3 separate regions of the Homo sapiens genome follow, and regions 2 and 3 are each linked to region 1. Evidence: fine-mapped expression QTL. A gene starts in region 1. Each other region holds a variant in brackets. All regions are shown on one strand. Distances are from middle to middle. Region 1 holds the start of RIF1 (replication timing regulatory factor 1). Region 2 has its middle 180 kb from the start of RBM43. Region 3 overlaps NMI (N-myc and STAT interactor).

Evidence for each region. PIP is the estimated chance that this variant, and not a neighbour inherited with it, causes the effect.
Region 2: its variant is the best candidate, but not a certain one, in a credible set for the expression of RIF1 in whole blood (TOPMed, PIP 0.50).
Region 3: its variant is the best candidate, but not a certain one, in a credible set for the expression of RIF1 in whole blood (TOPMed, PIP 0.67).

The regions. Positions count from the first base shown.
Region 1 is chr2:151,407,220-151,412,450 of GRCh38, forward strand. RIF1 (replication timing regulatory factor 1) reads left to right here and starts at 2,683. Exons shown (of 36, transcript NM_018151.5): 1 at 2,683-2,814; 2 at 3,195-3,308; 3 at 4,041-4,119. The coding sequence starts at 3,205. RefSeq lists enhancers at 1,594-2,292, 2,293-2,991, 2,596-2,755 and a silencer at 1,596-1,890.
Region 2 is chr2:151,075,851-151,081,081 of GRCh38, forward strand. No RefSeq gene overlaps it. Among named protein-coding and RNA genes, the nearest start is that of RBM43, 180 kb to the right of the region's middle. The variant T/TA (reference allele first, on the strand shown) is at 2,211.
Region 3 is chr2:151,280,200-151,285,430 of GRCh38, forward strand. It overlaps NMI (N-myc and STAT interactor), which reads right to left. Exons shown (of 8, transcript NM_004688.3): 2 at 2,669-2,755; 3 at 1,749-1,844. The coding sequence starts at 2,749. Among named protein-coding and RNA genes, the nearest start is that of NMI, 6.9 kb to the right of the region's middle. The variant T/C (reference allele first, on the strand shown) is at 3,317.

The DNA.
Region 1 (5,231 bases):
TTGAACTGACCTCAGGTGATCCACTTGCCTCAGCCTTGCAAAGTGTTGGGATTATAGGTGTGAGCCACCTGACTCTTATTTATTACTCTTGAAGAAGGTAATTAATATTCTAAATACATGCTCTGAATAAAAGTCTTCAAAGACACAGAGAAGCTGGAGATCTTAGCAGACTGTTCAGAATCTGATGAAGTGGGAGTAATCTGGAGATGAAGGACAAGCAGTGGCCCAATCATGATAGGCTTGCATGTTATGTCAAAAGTTTTGAAATCCATCCTGTTACTGATGGGAATGGCTGGAGAACTTTAGGCACAGGAATGACAATGATAAAATCTTACATAACATTTTTGAGCTACTTATAAGGCTGAGGCAGGAGGATCATTTGAGCCCAAGAAGTTCAGGGCTGCAGTAAGTCACAATCACACCACTGCACTCCAACCCAGGTGACAGAGCAAGGCCTTGTCTTTAAAAATAATAAAATTTAAAACATAACATTTTTGGAAGATCAAAGAACCATACATATGAAAGAAATACAAGCAACATGACCACCGTAGTCCTTTCATTACAAATGGGAAATTATGAAAAAAATAAAGCAAAATCCCTGTTCTCACAGAATTTATGTTCTAATGAATGGGTAGAGGCAGGCGTGGTGGCTCAAGTCTGTAATCCCAGCACTTTGGGAGGCCGAGGCGGGCTGATCACGAGGTCAGGAGATCAAGACCATCTTGGCCAACATGGTGAAACCTGTCTATACTAAAATACAAAAAATTAGCTGGGCGTGGTGGCGCATGCCTGTAATCCCAGCTACTCGGGAGGCTGAGGCAGGGGAATCGCTTGAACCCAGGAGGCGGAGGATGCAGTGAGCTGAGATCAGGTCAGTGCACTCCAGCCTGGGTGATAGAGCGAGACTCCGTCTCAAAAAAAAAAAAAAAAAAAAAAAAAAAAAAAATATATATATATATATATATATGTATATGTATATATGTATGTGTGTGTGTGTATATATATAAATATATGTAAATAAATATAAATATATATAAATACATATAAATAAATAAATATATATATAAGCATACTATGTATGTACTGCGTCGTTTGGCAGTCATTTTGCTAAGTGCAGATGACACAAAGAAGAGCAAAAAGCAACATCCCACTTCTAGAGCTGAGAGTTGCAGCACATGTGAGTGAGGGCTCAAATCCTGGGCCAGGAACCCATGATGGAGAGTTCCATTGCTGCTGGGCTTCATGTGTCTGATTTAGAGTTAATGCAATCCTGTCTGTTGTGGAGAGTGCACGAAGGCATATGAAAAGGGGAGAAGCAGACCGGGCGCGGTGGCTCACGCCTGTAATCCCAGCACTTTGGGTGTCCGAGGCGGGTGGATCACGAGGTCAGGGGTTCGAGACCAGCACGGCCAAGATGGTGAAACCCCGTCTCTACTAAAAGTACAAAAATTAGCCAGGTGTGGTGGCGGGCGCCTGTAATCCCAGCTGCTCGGGAGGCTGAGTCAGAGACTCGCTTGAACCCGGGAGGCAGAGGTTGCAGTGAGCCGAGATCGCACCACTGCACTCCAGCCTGGGCGAAAGAACGAGGCTCCGTCTTAAAAAAAAAAAAAGGCGGGGGAGGAGCAGCATATTCACAGTAAGGAGAAATGACTGTCATTGTGTTTACTGACGTTTCTCTAGGGAAGAAGCCCTGGCCAAATCCCACCCTTCAACCCCCCAGGGGCCTAACAGAAGAATGCACATCCTCGGGAGCTACCTAAATCTACTGAATTACAATGCATATGGGCGGGGCCCAGGAATCTGCAGTTTAATAACGAATATCCCCAGGCCATTGTTATGTACGCTTAAGACCTGAGAACCATTGGCCTCTCCAACCTTTTCTCACTTCACCTATTAAAAGCCCTATTTTATAGAGGAGGAAATTGAGGCATAGGTTAATTAACTTGCTAAAGTCACATGGAACCTAGACCAGCTGGAATCTAGACCAGCTTGAGATACAGTTCTTTTCTTTTTCTTTCTTTCTTTTTTTTTTTTTTTGAGAGACGGAGTCTTACTCTTACTCTGTCGCTCAGGCTGGAGTGCAGTGGCGTGATCTCGGCCCACTGCAACCTCCGCTTCCCGGGTTTAAGCGATTCTCCTGCCTCAGCTTCCCAAGTGGCTGGGACTACAGGCGTGCGCCACCACACCCAACTAATTTTTGTATTTTTGTTTTTTTTAAGTAGAGACGGGGTTTCACCATGTGTTGGCCAGGCTGGTCTCGAACTCCTGACCTCAGACTCGGCCTCCCAAAGTGCTTGGATTACAAGGTGTGAGTCACCGCGCCCGGCCAGCTCTTAGTCTTAAACCCAACAGTACGTTATCTCCTTTTGCTAACTGATTTGTTGCTAAAACTTCAACAAGCACTGGACTTGGAGTTTGAACACTTAGTCTGAGGGCCCACTATGTTCAGTCTAGTGAGTCTGAGCAATTAACTCACATTTTGAATTTCAAGTCTCTCGCCTTAGGCAAAACACCACCACCTGATGCTCACCAGAGGGGCGTGACGCGGCAGCTGGGCAGGGAAGGGATGGGAAGGGATGGGAAGGGAGGCGATCGATAACTCCGGTGTGCCGCTGACTGTTGGATTGGCTCGAACTTCTCCCGCCAGGCCTAACCTACTCCCGCGCACTCCTGGGCCCGCCCAGCCGCCATCTTGGTCTAGGAGGGAGCGCGCCGCACGCGTGAGTAAACAGCCGGAGCTGGGAAAGTCGAGCTCTGGCAGCGTCTGGGTGCTGAGGGGCAGAGGCGGAGAGAACCCTGTCCTGATCTTCCTAGGTGGGATAAATATCGGGGTGACAGTGGTAGGCCGCGGGGAACCCTCAGTCTGCCCACCCTCCGCCCCCTCGCGGCGAGATGCCTCGTTCCCCGGGCTTCTCCCGCCCTCCGCCGATCTCCTCCCTCTGTTGAAAGCTGCCCGGGAAAGTGGTGGCGGGAGCGGGCCCAGGCCCGAATGTGGCGTGGGCTCAGGTGTCTGGTGTCGGGCGCCGGAGGAGGTTCGCGCTGGGGTTTGGTGATTCGGAGGCCTGGGGTGCAGACGCGGCGTGGCTGTGAGGCCCGGGCGGGCGTGCGGGTGTGAGGGCCGGACTCACACTGGGCCGCCGCGGGGCTGTTTCCATCGGTCACTGGATTTTCTCCTCTTCCGGTTCGGGCCTCAGGGTGGCCGACATGACGGCCAGGGGTCAGAGCCCCCTCGCGCCGCTGTTGGAGACTTTGGAAGACCCTTCTGCCTCCCATGGAGGGCAGACTGACGCTTACCTGACTCTGACCAGGTGAGGTCCGCCACGGGGCGTAGCGGAGAGTGGGGCGCTCTATAGTGGGGAGAAAGAAGGTGGTTGGGAGGGGCGCGTAGAATGAATGTGAGTTCTAGAAGTCTAGCAAATGTGAGGACGCCCGAGTCGCGGACGCCTTGGGGGGCGGGGGAGATGTATTCTAGGTGACGTTCCCGGGTACTGCTGCTGCTGCGCTTGAGGTGTGTGTTTGGAACGAGGGAGCATGCACGTGTGTTTTGCAAGCGAGGGATTTTTAAAAGTTTCGGTTGGAAGTAGTTGTTGGAGGAGGGGTCTTCAGTGTAAACCTCCGATGTGTTGGGAAAATGTGGCTACCCAGAGTTTTTTTAACAGAGCAATACACTGATTTTTATTAATTGCAAAATGCTTCAAAGTAATTTTCATAGAAATGTACTAAAGTTTTGTAAAACCCTTTGGAAAGGCTTAGCAAATCGTTAGTAACTAGGAATAGGGATCCCTGTTCTGTCTTTTTGGAGTCAGGTTGTCACAACTTGCATGTACTCGATGTAAAAACTTATTCTGAGGGTTTTTCTACTTTCATTTCTGATATATATTGCATTATATATTCTGTATACCCTTAAGGACCTTACCTACTGGGTCAATTCATTTGCAGGAGTTAGAAAGTAATTTTTAAAAAGATTGTACATGTATTTTTGAGAGTATTTTTTTTTTTCCTGTCAACTACTTAAACTTGTGTTCTTCCTGCTTTTTAAGTCGTATGACTGGAGAAGAAGGAAAAGAAGTAATTACAGAAATTGAGAAAAAACTTCCTCGGCTGTACAAAGTTTTAAAGGTATGTATCTGTTTGTTAAACAGTTTTTCACTTTTGGTAGTTTGGTTTTTTTTTTTGGTTTTGTTTTTTTGTTTTGAGGTGTAGTTTTGCTCTTGTTGCCCAGGCGAGAGTGCAATGGCTCAGGCTCGGGCTCGGCTCACTGAAACCTCCGCCTCTCGGGTTCAAGCGATTCTCTTGCCTCAGCCTCCTGAATAGCTGGGATTATAGGCATCCGCCACCGCCCCGGCTAATTTTGTATTTTTAGTAGAGAAGGGGTTTCTCCATGTTGGTCAGGCTGGTCTCGAACTCCCGACCTCAGGTGATCCGCCTGCCTCAGCCTCCCAAAGTGTTGGGATTACAGGAGTGAGCCACTGTGTCCAGCCACTTTTGGTGGTTTTTAAAAGTTTTGCCAGTTGACTCAAAAGCTTTGAATCTAAAATAACAGCAATAATACTGATTATAATACTCTTTATTGTTACTTAAAGCTTCTCAGGTACTTTCTTAATTACCTTACACGCTTTATCACTTAACTCTCCATGGTTCCATGAGATTATTTCTTAATGATCACTTTGCAGGTGAAGAAATTAATTTAATTTGCCTAAAGTTGCCTAGGGGCACTTGAATCTGAGTTTGTGCTCTTGAAAGCAGAGATCAGAGATTAATCTGTTTTCTTTCCTTTTGGGAATCTACATCTAAGTAAGTGCTTCTAAAATTACAATTGTCTTTGGTCTAATCTAGGTAGCATTAATTTCTTTTTCCTCATTCACCCTCAGTTTTTGCTACAACCGTTATCATTTTTGCTTTAGGGAAATGATGTTTGACATCATACTGTGGACCTGTGTTCCTGTCTTCACTTGCCTACTTAATGGCTTCCTGACTATCCTTAACATCTTTTAAATTTCCTTGTTTTTAGAATGAAAAAGTTGAACTTTTATCTCCAAAGTTTGAGTTCTCATTTTTATGACCTTGTTCTCTTTTTTTAATTTTTTTTGTTTGTTTTTATTATGACCTTGTTCTTGTGCTTTTATTTTTGTTTTTAATTTTTAAAATTGAGGTGGGGGTCTTGATAGGTTGCCTAAGCCAGTCTTGAACTCCTGGGTCCAAGCGATCCTCCCACCTCAGCCTCCTTAGTA
Region 2 (5,231 bases), 330 kb before region 1:
AGAAAGCTCTACAACATTGGTCTTGGCAAAGAATTTTTGGATATGACCCCAAAAGCATAGGCAACAAAAGCAAAAATAAACAAATAGGATTGCGTCAAACTAAAAAGCTTATGTACAGCAAAGAAAACAATCAACCAAGTGAAGAGGCAACCTACAAAATGAAAGAAATATATTTGCAAACCATACATCTGATAAAAGGTTGATATCCAAAATATATAAGGAACTCAAACAACTCAATAGCAAGATAACACATAACTCAATTAAAAAATGGGCAAAGGGACTGGGTGCAGTGGCTCATGTCTGTAATCCCAGCACTTTTGGAGGTCAAGGCAGGCAGATCACTTGAGCTCAGGAGTTCAAGACCAACCGGGGCAACATGGCAAGACCCTGTCACTACTAAAAATACAAAAAAAATTGCTAGGCGTCATGGCATGCACCTGTGGTCCCAGCTACTTGGGAAGCTAAGGTGGGAAGATTGCTTGGGCTCAGGAGGCGAAGGTTGCAGTGAGCTGAGATTGTGTCACTGCACTCCAGCCTGGGTGACAGAGCCAGACACTGTCTCAAACTTAAATTTTTAAAAAAAGAAATGGGCAAAGGACCTGAAGACAAATGGCCAAAAGATATATGAAAACATGCTCAATGTCACTAATCACCAGGGAATACAAATTAAAACCACAATAAGATGTCACCTCACACCTGTTAGAGTGGCTATTATAAAAAAGACAGGGGATAGTATTTGTGAGGATACAGAGAAAGGGGAACACCTCTATACTGTTAGTGGGAATATGAATTAGTAGAGCAATTATGGAAAATTAAATGGAAGTTTCTTGAAAATCGAAAGTAGAACTACCCTATCATATGATCCAGCAATTCCCCTTCTGGGTGTATGTCCAAAGGATATGAAATTAGTATATCAAACAGATGTCTGCACTCCCATATTAACTGCAGCATTATTCACAGTAGCCAAGATAGAAAATCAACCTTAGTGTTCACATTTACTTATGTAACAAACCTGCACATCCTGCACATATACCCCTGAACTTAAAATAAAAGTTTAAAAAAAGCTTTTTAATAGAGCAAAAATAAATAAATAAAAATTTTTAAATCTTAGTGTTCATCAATGAACGTTTAAAGAAAATGTGGTATATTGTGGTATAGATATACAACGGGATACTATTCAGCCTTTCAAAAGAAGGTAAGCCTGTCATTTGTAACAACATGGATGAACCTGGAGGACATTATGCTAAGCAAGATAAGTCAGGCACAGAATGATGAATGCTACATGATCTCACTTATATGTGGAATCCTTAAAAAGTCAAATGTGTAGAAATATACAGTAGAATGGTGTTATCAAGGGCCTAGGGTTATGGGGGAGGAAGAATTGGAGAAATGTTGGTCAAGGGATACAAAATTTCACTTAAACAGGAGGAATAAGTTCAGGAGAGCTATTGTAAGCACGATGAGTGACTATGGCTAATAACAATGTAAAGCATACTAGAAAATTGCTAAGAGAGTAGATTTTAAATGTGTTCACCAAAAAAAATGATAAGTATGATGATTTAGCCTTTCCACAATGTATACTTATATCAAAGCATCATGTTGTACAATTTTTGTTTTATTTTGTTGTTTACTTTGTTATTAACTAGTAAAAGTATATAATTTTTACTCATCAATTAACAAAATTAAAAATTACAATTTTTTAAAAATAAAACAGAGTTAGAAAGAACTTACCAAAACTGTAATCCAGCTTTGATATATCTCAGTCCCTGATTGGATTAAGGTGAGCAGTTCTACTCTATCTGCCTGGAAAACGAAAAGTAAAACCTCTTTGGAGGAAGAAATCATTATTTGAACCTCTACAATTTTTTTCTTACCTAATGTCTCATATTCAATCAACAATTACTAGGCATGACAAAAGACAAGATCATATCAACAAAACTCAAGACAAAAAAACAGGAAATAGAAACAGGCCCATAATGACTATATATTGGAGGTAGCAGAGAGTGACATTAAAATAATCGTGATTAATATGTTCAGGAAAACAGAGGAAAAAGTGGCAAATCTCACCAGAGGACTAGAATCTATAGAAAAGAATCAAATAAAAACTCTAAAACTGAAAAGTAATATCTCTAAAATTAGGAACTCAATAGTTGGTTTTAAAACAGGTTACATATAAAGAAAGGAGACTAGTGATATAAAAGACTGGTAAA[T/TA]AAAAAACCCAAAGTGAAGAACTATGAAGAAAGGACTAGAAACTATTTTTAAAAGTAAAACCCAACTAGGTCAGTCAAATGGCATAATATATATGTAACTGGAGTCTCAGAAAGCTAAGTGAGAGCTAGAGAATTGAGTAGAATCACTATTTACAGAAAAAATAGCTGAGATCTTTAGAAACTGATGAAGGATGTTAACTTGCAAATTCAAGAAATGCTATAAACCCCAAACAGAATAAGCAAGAAGATTATTTGCTAATTAAGTAAATGAATAAAGAGTCGATGCCATAATCCAAACCTGTAAGCATATCATTGCCATGGCAATAAAAAATTGGCTTAGGCAGCCCAGCACAGTGGCTCGCACCTGTAATCCCAGCACTTTGGGAGGCCCAGGCAGGTGGATCACCTGAGGTCAGGGGTTCGAGGCCATCCTGGGCAACATAGAGAAGTCCCATCTCTGCTAAAATTACAAAAATTAGCCAGGCGTGTTAGCACGCACCTGTAATCCCAGCTACTTGGGAGGCTGAGGCAGGAGAATTGCTTGAACCCAGGAGGCAGAGGTTGCAGTGAGCCGAGATCACACCACTGCACAACAGCCTGGGTAACAGAGCAAGACTCCGTCTGGGAAAAAAAAAGAAAAAAAATTGGCTTAGGAGCAAGAGAGACAGCCATTTCTAAGGCCACCATCAACTTTTATGTTCTTGTTGGCATGACTAAAAGAGATGGAGGAGCTGATCTATTATTTAGCCAGTTGTGTATTGCCTAAGCAGTTGATTCAACTCATTAGGGCATAAGTCACATTAGGGAAGGGATTTCCTTTCTTGCTCATGCTCTACCCTCAGTGCCTGAACTGTGACTTTTTCACAGTAAGAAATCAACTAACATTTATGGCATTAATGAATGAACCATCTAACCATTCATTCATCCTCAAAGATTACTGCCAAATATGCATGAATTTTCTTTCAATGGAATTGCAAATAATACTTATTATCTCACTCAACTTTATCTCTGGGGCTATGGGCAAATTGCTGACATATTATTTTAAGTGCTGGCCCACAATTTTAAAATAGGAGCTCATCTCTGAGAATATCTTGAACCAATGGACACTTCTACTTAATTTTCACACACTTATCTACCAACTTATTATTGCACTGGTCCACCTTATTAACCTTTTATGTTTATCAGCTTGGATGATACAGGTTACAGACAATAAACAAAGAGGTGTCCTCAGAATTATTGCTTGTTGGATTATCAGATTCCAGTTTTTTTTTCCATCATACTTTTTTAAAATTGAATGATCTGTCAGTTTTTCACAGAAAGTTTTTGAAGAGAATCTTCAGATATGCCCTTGGTTAAGTCACTTCTTTCTGGGCATCCATTGCTAATCAGAACAGAAGACAGTTAGACCACAACAGAGGCACAAATAGAGCAAAACTCTGAGTGGATGGAAACTATAGATACATCTTATTTTACCTGCAGAGAGGTTTTCTGGGGGTGGGGGGTTATTTATGCGTGTGTGGCTGAGGGGGTGGTTGGTTGCCAATATATAAAAATGTTGTTACATAAAGATTCAAACATCCAACTTTCTAGCTACTTCAGAAGTCAGATCTGGCAACACTGGGTCCAAAGTCTCATGTGGTGGCCAAAGGAAAATTCCTCCTGTGTCCTCCAAAGGTTTGCTGAAAACCAATTCACAAAAAGCAGATGAATAGGAGAAAGGGCATACAAATTTATTTTAATGTGCATACATGGGAGAATTGTAGATTGATTACCTAATAACCCAACGGGGTCCAGATTGTTATATACCCTTCTTCTTAGGGGAAAGGGAGATGGAGCAGTGTAGATGACGTTAATGGGTTAGTAAATGATCTTTAGGAGAATTCAATGGGCTTGAAGAATATACAATGGCCTGGGACAGAGTCTGTTGGACCCTCAGAGCGAACAGTGGTTTGTGATAAAAATCTGTCCAGGTGTGTTGACAGACTTTAGTCTTCCTTCCTGCAACATAGTTCAGTTAATGAAAACTCATGGAAGGGACCAGAAGTCATCCTTTCCTTTTTTGGAGGGTCCAGATTTTAGGCAGATGAGAGTACTTATAAGAGTAACTTAATCCTGTACTTTGGGAGAGACAGGACTGAGAGAGAGGACGGTGGGTGGGTAGGTCAGAAAGATCTTTAGGCTTCTTTTTCAGTTCAGCATGTCAAAGGGCCATATTTTGGGGGTATTGTTTTCTGAGCCTCAACATTCACATGAGAACAGGTCAGGGCTACCCTCTTCCATAATAGCTTGATTTCTCTGGTTCTCCCCGTGCCTTCAAACCCACATTACCCCTTAATGTGACCTGACCCCTGAACTAGGTGAGTCCTGATTTCCTTGTGTATGGAGCATTCTGTTATTTTATAAAATACTGTCAATTAGTGTATTAAGCCATTCTTGTATTGCTATACAGTACTGCCTTAGACAGACTGGGTAATTTATTTTTAAAAAGAGGTTTAATTGGCTCGCAGTTCTGCAGGCTGTACAAGCATGGCCCCAGCATCTGTTCAACTTCTGGGGAGGCCTCAGGAACCTTTTACTCATGGTGGAAGGTGAAGTGGGAGCAAATATTTCACATGGCGGAGCAGGAACAAGGGAGAGGTGGGTGCCACACATTTTTAAACAACCAGAACTCACGAGAGGTCATTCACTATCACTTGGAAAACACCAAGACATGAAGGATCTGCTGGGACTCAGTCGCCTCCCACCAGACACCACCTCCCACATTGGGGACTACATTTCAACAAGAGGTTTGAGAGGACACAGATCCAAACCATCTCAATTGGTATTGGATGACTAATAAGCATTTCATAAACATGTGCATTGGTTAAAACTATGTTGCCACTATATATGATTTATTTATGTTTAAGATCATAGGCAAAGTTGATGCTCTGAGTCTCAGTTTCCTCATCAGTAATGAAGGGAATAGGTTGCTAAATGAGGGGCTACTGGGGCCTAGTGGTCCTATGCAGCCCACTGCCCTCC
Region 3 (5,231 bases), 130 kb before region 1:
AAAAAAATTGTAACCTGAAAGATAAAGGTAGGTGGTTATACTTAGCTGCTTAGAATTATTGGGATTAACAGATTCATATAACTACACATAAATGCACAAATGAGATAGATGCTTGCATTTCTATTGCCCATGGTTATTTTACATGCTGAAAATAACACAGAGATTAGAAATATTCAGTGAGTCATTCAATTTAATCTTACATTTATTCTTTGCCTTTATGCATAACTCCAGTGGAACTTCTGATTACGGTAAGGCTGACATCAAAACAGTCTACAATGTCTGAGTAAAGGCAGAGTGTTACCCAATAATGCAGAAATACCCAGTATATGCTGAGGAGCAAGGGCTTTCTGAAATTAGAGTGAGAAAGCTTGATTCTATTTCTGACCACACTGCGACAGACAGCAAATTTACTTAAGCTCTCTGATCACAGGTTTGGTCCTCTGCAAAGTGGGTCGACTAGGGCTGGCCGGTTTCTAAAGGCTCTTTGAGTTATAAGACTGCATGATTCTAGCTCCAGTCTGAGAAGTAACCAGAATCTTAACAGAGTCTTCTGCACAAAGTCACCCATCTCATAAACACAGAAAACCTCACTTCCTGATATTCAATATCCTATCTCCCACTTCAGAAACAAGAAGTGTCAATGCTTTAATTTTTTTTTTTTTAGGCGGCGCCTCGCTCTGTCGCCCAGGCTGGAGCACAGTGGTGTGATCTCAGCTCATCGCGACCTCCGCCTCCCAGGTTCAAGCAATTCTCTGCCTCAGCCTCCCAAGTAGCTGGGATACAGGCACCCGCCACCATGCCTGGCTAATTTTTCTTTTTTAGTAGAGACAGGGTTTCACCATCTTAGCCAGGCTGGTCGTGAATTCCTGACCCCATGATCCACCCGCCTCAGCCTCCCAAAGTGCTGGGATTACAGGCATGAGCCACCGCGCCCAGCCTCAATGCTTTAATTTTTTAACATCTGAGTTGTTAAGAAAAAAAATGGGTGAAAATTATGTACAATTAAAATACAGGAAAATTTAGGAGAGAATTTAAATGGTGAGGATTAATATATGTCCAATTTTTTGAACCGTGAAACTCATCTAAATTACCAAAGCACCTTGGATGAGAAGAATTATAAAAGAACTCAGTGAGAAAAGCCAGAATTTGATCCAACAGTAATTTGCTAATGACCATCTTTTTTTGGTAAATTTTATTAATTTTTTGTTTTTGTAAATTTATTAAAGTGTACGTAAATAATAGAAAAATGCATGTATCATTAAGTACAGCAAGATGAAATTTTACAAAGCTAACACACGTGATTGGCACGCAGATGATAGGCAGGACATGACAACACCCCAGAAACCCCCTTGGGTTCCCTTCTGGGTCTTACCTGCTTCCAAAATAACCACTGTTTTAACTTCAAACATCCTGCTTTTGCTTAATTTAAAGGGAAGCATATGGTATGCCCTCTTCTGTCTTTTTTGTGTTAACATTGTGTTTATGAAACTCATTTGTGTTGCTGCATGTCATTATGATCTGTTCATTCTCATTGCTGTGTAGTTTTCTATCATATGACTATACCCCAATTCACTAATTCGTTCTACTATGAAGGAATCATTGGGTTGTTTTCCATTTTGAACTATTACAAATGGTGGTGCCATGGATGATGATAAGGTTTTAAAAATGAATTTTGTGTAATTAAAATGCTTTTTCCAAAAACCATGCATCCATCAAAAATGTAGTATATAAAATAATTAAGAGAGTACCTGGAATTCTTTGGTAGCCTCTTGTAACTCCGTTTCAAGCTTTTGGATCTCCTTCTTTAGTTGAATATTTTTCTTTGTAATTTCATCAATTAGTCCCTTAAAAATATCAAATGGTACCAAAGAAAGTAAATAGCCCCTGAACTCATTTTTCCGAATGAACTAAAGACTATAAATTTCTCTCATCCTGACCAAAGAAAGACATTAGACAGTCTCAGAATAAATATGACTATGTGAATAATGCATTTGTTGAATATTTTACATCATCACCTGTCTATTCTAACATTGCCAAGTAGTACTATCTCCATTATATAAATCAGGAAACCACCTTTTACACTAGACCGAAGTCACAGAAAGTTGTATAGTAAGGCAAAGATTGAGATCAGATCTTCTGAATATTACTTCAGTGCTGCATCAACTCCTTTCCTAGCTATTTGTGAGCATGATAAGACTTTTAAATTGCACTGTAATAGCGGACATATTCTGGGGCAGTTTGTTGTTGGTGTTGTTGTTGTTTTTGTTCTTAATTATCTGTGATTCCCATAGTATCGCATAGTACACAGTTACCTTAATGAGCCAGACATATGACCTTGGGGAAGTGGTTTAAGCTACCTGGGCCTCCGTTCCCTCTTGGGGTCTAATGAGATAATTGCTGACTATGCTCTTAACTTGTTGATGCAAATCCAAGAAATGAGGGTGTGAGTGAGAAAGCAGCTAGTGTTGTAAGCCTTATAAGAGAAAGAATAAAAATATGACACTTCTTGTAAGGCTTAAATAACATAATGGAAGTTAAAAATTTTTTTAAAGCCTAACGGCCTCCCAAATTCAAGGTAATGTTGGACAAAGACATACAAAACATGCCTTACTGCAAAACTAATAGATATAAAATAATTTTTAATAATACCCAGTAATTTCCTTTTTACCTTATTTTGTTCATCTTTTATAAATTCATCTGGCGAATGCTCCTTAAGAATTTGTTGTGTGTCATCTTTATCAGCTTCCATGATCCCCTAATATTATAAAAAATAAATATTATAAGCATAGCATATATACACAAATTTAAGAACAAAGAAATAAGAACTTTTACCCTTTTATGGAAGAAACATCTCTTCTTTGCTATATCTTTTTTTCCCATCATCAAAGGCTTTATTATCATATGGCTTATATCCAAACAAAGTCTGTATTTTAATAACTCCTTTTTTTTTTCTTTTTTTGAGACAGAGTCTCTCTCTGTCGCCCAGGCTGGAGGGCAATGGTGCGATCTTGGCTCACTGCAACCTCTGCCTCCCAGGTTCAAGTGATTCCCCTGTCTCAAGCCTCCCAAGTAGTTGGGATTACAGGTACCTGCCACCATGCCCGGCTAATTTTTGTATTTTTAGTAGAGATGGGGTTTCACCATGTCGGTCAGGCTGGTCTTGAACTCTTGTCAAGTGATGCACCCCCCTCGGCCTCCCAAAGTGCTGGGATTACAGGCGTGAGCCACAGCACCTGGCCAATATTTCAAATAACTTTCACACCTATAATATATAAAAAGATTCTAAAAATCCTTTGCTTTTCAACAAAATAATATA[T/C]AGAAAGTAATGAACATTAATGTTCCTTTGTAGTTCACATTCCAACCATAATATCATGCTCCATTTTAAATGAATACTATTTTGGTTTTCCAACGTTTTTCAAAGTTTTTGATTAAAATATTTAATTCTCCCTATTGTTCTCCCCAAATGTAAACAAAGTCAAGAGGCCTCCAACATATGCTTTCTCTACGCAGGTGTTCTTACCTGAAGCTTTCACTAACTCTCCTGCTGGGTCCATAAACATGGATTGGGAAGAAATTATATGTTTATTTCTAATAACCTCTAATTGAAGCTTAGCATTCTCTTCAATTATGAATATGGTAACAAACTACAGTAGTATTCACAGCACCTGTGATAGTCACCAATAGAAAGCACAGATAGTTTCATAGAATATTGTTGCAGATATGCTAAAATAGTTTGTGTTTAACATTGCTTCTACATTAGTTACTAACCTCACCACTAGGTCTTGTAATATATTGTAATACATTGATATATATCACTATATCAAACATTTGCTTTTTAAATATTCTGATAACCATATTTCAATACAATTGATTTCTGGCCGGGCGCGGTGGCTCATGTCTGTAATCCCAGCACTTTGGGAGGCCAAGGCGGGTGGATCACAAGGTTAAGAGTTTGAGACCAGCCTGGCCAACATGGTGAAACCCCGTCTCTACTAAAAATACAAAAAAAATTAGCTGGGCGTGGTGCCAGGTGCCTATAATCCCAGTCATATTTCAATACAATTGATTTACTTTGTAATTCTATGTATTTTATTTTATGCATTTAATTTTTTTTTTAGATAGGGTCTCACTTTGTTGCCCAGGCTGGAGTGCAGTGGGGCATGAACACGGCTCACTGCAGCCTCAACATCCCTGACTCAAGTGATCCTCCCACCTCAGCCCCCCAAGTAGTTGGGACTACAGGTATGTGCCACCATGCCCAGCTAATTTTTGTATTTTTTGTAGAGATGTGTTTTCGCCAAGTTGCCTAGACTGTCTCGAACTCCTGGGCTCAAACAATCCGCCCCCCTTGGACTCCCAAAGTGCTGGGATAAGCCACCATGCCTGTCCCCACAGGCATTGACTAAATGTTTTTTTTTTGGAGAAAGGCCCATAGGATTTGCCAAGCTGGCAAAGGAATCCATGGTACACAAAATTTAAGAACTCTTGCCTACATATGAATTTACTGAGATGAAAAACTCTCAGATCAAAAATGGGACAAAGGATATCATGATTCTATGTTTTTAGATACACATTAATAAACAGTCTGCCATATAATTTTCCAAGATTTCAAGTGGCTAAATTCTCAATATTCTTGAAAAAGAAATAAAAGACATCTATTCCTCCTTAAAAATAAAATAGAAGACTAGCAAAAACTTAGCTATGTCTTAGTTTAATGAACACAGGAGTGTCAAAAAAAGAGGAGAGTCGCATAACACCCAGATCTTGGTTTCTAATAATATTCTTCAATAAAAGAAACCAGGGCTCATTGGAGCAATGGCTGATTCTAGGTCTGGGGTATAAAATATACAAAATAAGCCTGGAATATCTTGTAGTGCCAGAAAAGTAAAAAGCACTAAAACACATGCACAAACACATACAATATGATGGGAGTATGTGAAAGGGACATGGGGACCCAACTGAAAGGGCTCCAGTGGCCAAAAGTACATACACAGAATTGATCAAGTAAGTAAATATATGGAGGATAATAGGAGCCAAGTTTTTCACCGTCAGAGAAGATAATTATAAATATGGAAATGGAGAAAACAAGAATAAATACTGTTGATTGGAACTAGATTTCAATGTAATCCTGCAGCTGTGGTTTCTGATTGATGATTGAGATAGATAGATAGATAGATAGATAGATAGATAGATAGATAGATAGATAAATAGACAGACAGATAGAAATACCT